2 linked regions of the Homo sapiens genome follow. The protein of the gene in region 1 purifies or fractionates together with the protein of each later gene. This does not show direct contact. Each region holds a gene or a part of one and is shown on either strand. Other genes may lie near its edges. The genes, in order: XYLB and AGL.

Region 1 (3,916 bases):
GTCATTGGCCAGGCACGGTGACTCACGCCTGTAATCCCAGCACTTTGGGAGGCTGAGGCAGGTGGATCACATGAGGTCGGAGTTTGAGACCAGCCTGACCAACATGGTGAAACCCCATCTCTACTAAAAATACAAAATTAGAGCCATACGCAGTGGCTCACGCTTGTAATCCCAGCACTTTGAGAGGATGAGGCAGGCGGAACACCTGAGGTCGGGAGTTCAAGACCAGCCTAACAAACATGGAGAAACCTCGTCTCTACTAAAAATACAAAATTAGCTGGGCGTGGTGGCGGATGCCTGTAATCTCAGCTACTCGGGAGGCTGAGGCAGGAGAATCACTTGAACCCAGAAGGCAGAGGTTTCAATGAGCTGAAATCACGCCATTGCACTCCAGCCTGGGCAACAAGAGTGAAACTCCGTTTCAAAAAAAAAAAAAAATTAGCTGGGTGCGGTGGTGTGCGCCTGTAATCCCAGCTACATGGGAGGCTGAGGCAGAAGAATCAGTTGAACCAGGGAGGTGGAGGTTGCAGTGACCGGAGATCACGCCACTGCACTCCAGCCTGGGTGACAGGAGTGAAACTCTGTCAAAAAAAAAAAAAAAAGTCATCAAGCAGTTAAGATTAGATTAAAATGCAGTAATCTAATCTTAATTAGATTAGATACTTAGATACCTTTATTTAAAATTTTTTAAAAGTGGAGATAATAGTACCTACTTCCCAGCATCATTGTGACGATTAAATGTGCTCAGCAGGTTGCATAATTGTTTCTGATCTAGCTAGTATCCAGTATTTGTCTATTGTCACAGGTGGTGACTGCTGGAGGGGCTGAGTCCCCAATAAGCTGTGAATGTCTTGGAGGACAAGTATGTTGGCCCCTTCTTGTTCTAGCAGTGAAGAGGATCCCATGTAGACTCCAAGCAGCTCAAGTTCAGCAAGGGAGACAGACCATTGCAAGTGCATGAAAAGGGCACTGGTGGGCTGGGAAGTTCGTAGGAGGAGCCTCTCACATGCTGGGTTTGGGGAGGAATTCTGGAAAGCAGTTAGTCTTAGGGACGGGAAGGATGTAGCTGGTGGGACAGGCGCCCTCAGCTCCATGAATAAAAGGAGTGGGTCTGACTCTGGTTCTCATTCCCCTTTACCATGCCTGGCACACATTAGACCATCAATACCAATTGACTCCAGGAAGGAGTGTCTCCCCGTGGGGGCATCAGGAGCCGCTGAGTTTAAATACACAGGTGGGATGTGACACACTGGGAACCATTCAGATTTGCTGGATCTGGATAGGGCTTGTCAGGACTCAGTGCTTCCAACCCCAGGGCCCATTTCCCTGTGGCCCCTGAGTCACCACCATGGGTGGACAGCTGCTCCAGTGCCAAGATACAGCCACAGAGGACGGCAGGCCCAGGGCCTCCAGAAGGACAGGCAGGCTCCCTCTGAAAGACAAGCCGGCTTATAGCTGAAACCTCTGGCCCAGGCGTCCTCTAAGGGAAGCCAGGCGGTGTCAGGGCACGGCCCATGAAGACATAAGATGAAGATGGGGAGAACCAGAGGGGGTGCGCTTCGAAGGAAAGCGGGCTGCGTGGGGGCACCGTCGATTGCACAGGACGCGGTCCCGGCTCGCGTAGCCCCGCAGGCGGCGCCAGAGCGCAAGCCCGCCTCGTGACTCCGGTCCACAGTCCGGCCGGGCGGAGCTAGGGGCGGGCCCCTGCGTCTCTGGGCGCTGGAGCGCGGCGACTATCACGCCGCGTGGCGGACGGACGGACTGACGGACGCGCAGCCTTACCCGAAAGGCCATGGCGGAGCACGCCCCTCGCCGCTGCTGCCTGGGCTGGGACTTCAGCACGCAGCAGGTACAGTCGCCTGGCCGCAGGGCCACGGGGCCGCCTCCTCCGCTTCGGTGGGGGTAGGGGGCGGGCTGTCACCCGGACGCGGGAAAACATGGGCCCGGCCGCGGGCGCGCCTACCTCTCGGGCTTCCCGGGGCCCCCGCGCCCCTGCCCTGCGCGCGGCCGTGGGGCGCCGGTGCCCTCGCCCGGAGATGCCCTGCCAATGCCACCCGCTCGCAAGATGCGGCCTCGACCCCGCCTGGACCCAGCTACCCCAGGAAACTGCAGGCGCTCCTCGGCAGGACCCCCGGTGCCCAGAGGGGCCGGAGGACTCGGCGGGTTCCTGCGCTGTTCTGGGCACCCAGTGACGGGGATCCGAAGGAAGTCAGCTACTGTAAGGCAGGGGAACAGACAGGCGGGTAGCCCTGCGCACATGCACAACCAGTGACCTGGAAGCAGATTATAGCCCAAAACCTTTTTTTAAAAATTGAAATGGCCCAGGCCTGGTGGCTCTTGCCGGTAATCCCAGCACTTTGGGAGGCCGAGGCGAGTGGATCGCTTGAGCCCAGGAGTTCGAGACCAGCCTGGGCAATATGGAGAAACCCCGGTCTCTACCAGAAAATACAAAAATTAGCCGGGCATGGTGGAGCACACCTGTAGTCCCAGTTTTTCTGGAGGCTGAAGCGGATCGCTTGAGCCCAGGAGGTGGAGATTGCAGTGAGCTAAGATGGCGTCACCGGTCTCCAGCCTGGGCGACAGAACGGGACCCTGTCTCAAAAAAAAAAAAAGAAAAAAGTGAAATGCATAGTGTACAAGTGGACTTTACCCTGTGACCGCCCTTCGTTGACACCAGCTTGCCTGGTCTGTGCACCCAGGACTGCTGGCCAGAGGAGCAGTGTGCTGCTGCCAACGCCCTGCAGACAGGCAAGCAAATCAAAATTTGCCTTCAAAGAGGGCATGGGGTGACCGGGGGCACCTTTTCCTTTAAAGTACTTGGGAAATATACACAGTTGCAGTCAAACCCCTCTTCTCGAATGGGTCAAGGGAGGCAGGCCTCTGGCCAGTCCTTGGGGGAACGTCCTGTGGGACTCTGGATGACTCGAGTTGCCTTGCTGGACCTCAGTTTTCCCATCTGTCCAGGAAAGGAGTTATACTCCCAAGCTTGGAGATTGCTTCAGTGGGACATTAATGTCTCTGGACCACAATCATGGCCTGTGAGAATAGCCCATGGCCTTGCCTGGTCTCAGGCCTCTGCAGACATGGATCCCCAGAGATGCCTCCAAACCTTGCTTCCCATTCCTTCCTCTCTGGCACTTTCTCCCGCCTCCTTGTCAGGTGCACGAACCAACTCATCTGTGAACATCTTCCTCTAGAGGGTCTTGGCTTTGGCTATTTGGGGAACAAAGATTCCTTGAGACATGTGGGTGTTCCTACTTAGCCTCAGTTTCTTCATTTTACTAAATCTTTGAGTGTTACCCCAGATGAGTCCTCTGTTACCACGATTACGGTGAGGCAGCCCTGCCTTCAAGGAGGTCTCTAGGTTGAACTGCTCCTAGGGTGTGGGGCCTCATCTGGTGACGTTAGTACCCCCTGGACCAGTGTAGAAGCTGAGGAAAATTCTACACTTCCTTTTTTAAAATGCCTTTCAGGTAAAGGTTGTTGCTGTTGATGCAGAGTTGAATGTCTTCTATGAGGAAAGTGTGCATTTTGACAGAGATCTTCCAGAATTTGGGTATGTACTTGATGTGCATGTGTGTGTGATGGGGGTGTTGGTTTTGGGGTCCTCCCGCAAACTTTTGTATTCGCAGACCGCACTGTTGAGGCTTTGCCAAATACAGGAGTGGTGGTCTCGGCAGACCTTTCAAGCATCTTTTTTTCCTATACCTAGAGTGCCATCTCCCCCATTTCTTCCTAATTCCATTCATCCATTCATGAAGTAAGCATCAGTTGAGACCTACTTTGTGCCAGGTGCTAGGACCTGATGGCGAAACAAAAAGAGAAAGCTCTCCCAGAGCTTCCCACTGAGTAGTGGAGACTGGTATCAAACAAAGAATCTCACAAAAGAGTGTTTCATTATAAACTCTGAGAAGGC
Region 2 (3,816 bases), on another chromosome or scaffold:
TAGTGCTCTGTTACTGCAGCTCTAGCAAACTAACAGATACCAAAATTAAAAAACAAAATGAGGTTACAAAACCATGAATATGCTGCCCATAATTACACTTGGACACTAGGACATGGAATGTATCCATACAAATATAAGGAAGTCCCCTTTCCCTTGCTTTCCTGAAAAATTCATCCTGAAGTCATTAGGTGGGACAGAGCAAGGTAGGTGACCAGAAATGGAGGGGAAAGGGTAATAGGTAGTATGGAGCAGGATGTTAGAGTCCAAGAGGTATGAAGAGGGAGTCCACCAAGGGTGAGAGTGGTCCAGAGTGGGTAGTTAGAATCCAAGTGGTGCCAGGAGGGCTCCACACATAGAGGTGGCTTACTGTGGGGTAGCAGGCCCAAGCTGGGTGAGCAGACTCTATGTGGTGGTGATGGCCCAATGTGGGAAGTAGGTTATTCATTGTTGGAAAAGGGAATTACAAATATAGAAAGGGAGAAAAATAGAATTAAACACTGAGAAATAGCTTGGAACTGGTGTAAACTCAGGTTTTCAACACACATAGACAGGATACATTGAGATGAAGATAAGTGTGTATGTATTTACTTATGTTTATGTATTATTATATATTCCCTAGCCCTATCTACTGGGGGTCATAGTAATAATAAATACACCATGTGCTCAGATCTGGCTTCTAAATAACATTTTTCACTATAAAGAACAAGGGATCCTTAGAGAATTGCCCAATTCCAGGCTGGGGTAGTGAAAGTGAAAGATGAGTGTTGAAAACCTTGCTGGGCCAGAAAGCAAGGAAGGACTTCCATATGTGACAAACAGGAAGTAGTATGGACAGAATTTCCCTCCTGTCTGATACAACTGAAGAACTGGACATTAAGACATTAGACATTAGGCAACAAATAGCGATCCTTGAAGGATGAGAAACAAATGAAGCAAACCCTATGATTACCATACCTTACTGCCTTGAGAGTTTCCAGGATTTGGCACAGAGAGGGGGAACACAGGTGGAGCCTGGCAGACTTCCTTGAGTTGAACTGAGAATCCAGGAACACTACAAAGCAGCTACAATTTGCAGGATAGAGTACTAGAGAGGAAGGAGCTGTACAAAGAGAGAACTCTGAAGATATGCAGAGGGTCCCACTCAAGTATCTGTAGTGTACCAACCAGCAAATTCACAAGAGGAAACTACCAAAGAACAAGGAAAGAACCATCCAAAAGGATGAGAAGAAGCAGTATGTGGCACTCATACAGCGTCAGGAACACTTGCTTGTTCCCACCAGCCAGATTTGAAAACGTCATAATTTTCGAAATACAGGGTAGGGAACACAGATGGGTCTTGATTCACTAATGGAGAATAATTATTCCTAGACCAAATGCTATTCTGGTCAGGTCTAACAAGCTTAAAATCAAGACCAGAAAGGATCAAACTGTTTCCAAGTAATTTCACTGCATTCCAAAACAAAGCTCAAAAACATTTACAGAAACACCAAAAATCTAGCACCCAACAAGGTAAAATTCACATCTGGTATCTAATAAAAAATAACCAGGCAAATGGCTGGGTGTGGTGGCTCATGCCTGTAATCTCAGCACTTCAGGAGGCCGAGGTTGGGGGACTGCTTGAGCCTAGGAGTTCGAGACCAGCCTGGGCAAGATAGCAAGACCCCTGTCGCTCCAAAAATCAAAAAACAAAAACTACCAAGCAAAGAAGCAGGGTGATATGACCCAAAATAAAGAGAACAATCACAAGCAAAAGCAACCCAGAAATGAATTAGCAGACAAGGATATTAAAAGAGTCACTGTAATCATATTCCACATGTTCAAAACATTAAGCAGAGACATGGAAGATATAAAAACAGCCCAGATAAAACTTTGAGAAATGAAAACTACAACGTTGAAATGAAAAACACCAGCATGGATGTGATGGTAGGTTAGACATAAAAATGATGCAGATTTCTTATCAAAACAATGTAACCACCTTAAAGTATGAAAGAGAAAAAAGCTTAACTTTGAATTCTATACATAGTGAAAATATCTTTAAAATAAAGGCAAAACACAGATGTTTTACACTTATAAGAATTGAAAGAATTCATCATGAGGAGGCAAACACTACAAGACATGATGGAGAAAGTCCTTCGGGTAGAAGGAAAATGATACAAGATGGAGATACAGAACATCACAAACATATGAAGAGCACTGAAAATGGCAACTATAAGAGTAATTAGACTTTTTAATATATTATTTAAAGATCATTAAAACATAACTGACTGCCTAAACAAATGTAGTAACCATGTAGTGTGGGGGGTAATAACAGGTAAAAGCAAAATGGATGATGATGATAGCACACAGGCCGGGAGGGGAAAAATAAAACTATACTATTTTAAGGATCTTTATACCTTACTTGAAGTGGTATATCACTGGAAGGTAAACTATAAAGACATATACTATAAACCTAAAGCAGCCATTTTAAATAAACAAGAATTACATCTAATTAGCCAACAAAGGAGATTAAAATGAAATAATAAATATTCAATGCAAAAGAAGCACAAAAAGAGGAAAAAGCTAACAAAGAACAGACAGAATAAACAGACAACAAACATTTAAATTTCACAATTTCAGACCTTAAGTGTAAATGGTCTAAATATTCCAAAAGCAGAAACTGTTGTGCTACACGAGAGCAAGGCCCGATTACATGCTACTATGTACAAGAAAGCCACTTTAAATACAAAGACATAAATAGCTTAAAAGGATGGTAAAATCTGTACCATGGTGACAACCAAACAAAACAGACCAGGAGTGGCTCTATTAATATGAAACACGCAGAAGTCCCTTATGTGCTTGTAAGAAAGGAGATAAAATTTGTGCTGTTTATTCATTATCTGAGGAATAGAATATAGATATACTTAGGTATAATCTAAAATTTGAGGAATTAAGATACACTCTGAATTTATACTCTTATAAAGATACGTAACTCTGACACTGTCTATTTGCTAATAATTAGGACAAGGAAGTGAAAAATGTTTTTTGAACTAACAGGCAAAAGACCAGTTCTGATATTTTAACTATAATGAAAGCATTTCTGAAAACTATTTCTTGATATATCTTTAAATCAATTAACTCAAAAGGCCCAGGCTGAGTACCTTCAGTTTTTATATTTATCCTGTGCTAACCACATCCAAAAACATCAGGGAAATTTTAAAAATCAAAGACTATTCCACATGTATAAATCGCACAATATCAAGACCTCAACTTAAAATAAATAACAACCCAAAATAAGAGAAAGTGAAAATTATATAACAGAATTTGTCATGTTAAAGAATAAAGGCTTCACTTTTCATTGGGATACCTAGGGCATACAGAAATCAATTCTAAGAAACTGTAATTTACCTAATAGCTAATAAACTGACTAAACACTAGTTATGGAAATTACATGCTCCTGATGACTTACCTCTCAAGATGAACATAATGTCGGGAAAGAACATTTTTAACCAAAACTATAGTCTTTGCAGTAGTCTCCGGGCCCATCAATCTGGAAAAATATAATTTTGCACGAAGAAAATACCCAATAGGCCACAGCCACTCCTAAAAAAGATTATTTAAAAGACAAAAAAAACCATAAATACCTAAAAATTACTTGAAAAATAATTTAAACTGAAACTCAGAAGATAAATGAAATTCTTACAGGTCCTTGGTGATAATTGAAACCTTTAGCAAGATTGTAGTTGTCATTGTCTAATGCATTGTCATAAATTCCACAGTAAACCATATCACTGCAAAATGATTGAAATTTAAGTTAAATAAAAGATGATCAGATATTAT

Evidence for each region.
Region 2: the proteins of XYLB (region 1) and AGL fractionate together in Homo sapiens (co-fractionation; one large-scale study listed by BioGRID). This does not show direct contact.

What each region holds. Positions count from the first base shown.
Region 1 is NC_000003.12:38,345,077-38,348,992, forward strand, and holds the start of XYLB (xylulose kinase), read left to right. Parts: upstream 1-1,708; 5' UTR 1,709-1,792; coding exon 1,793-1,849; intron 1,850-1,856; exon of another isoform or gene 1,857-2,748; intron 2,749-3,470; exon of another isoform or gene 3,471-3,473; coding exon 3,474-3,556; intron 3,557-3,916. UniProt on the Homo sapiens protein: Phosphorylates D-xylulose to produce D-xylulose 5-phosphate, a molecule that may play an important role in the regulation of glucose metabolism and lipogenesis.
Region 2 is NC_000001.11:99,916,361-99,920,176, reverse strand, and holds part of AGL (glycogen debranching enzyme), read right to left. Parts: intron 3,768-3,816; coding exon 3,680-3,767; intron 3,580-3,679; coding exon 3,446-3,579; intron 1-3,445. UniProt on the Homo sapiens protein: Multifunctional enzyme acting as 1,4-alpha-D-glucan:1,4-alpha-D-glucan 4-alpha-D-glycosyltransferase and amylo-1,6-glucosidase in glycogen degradation.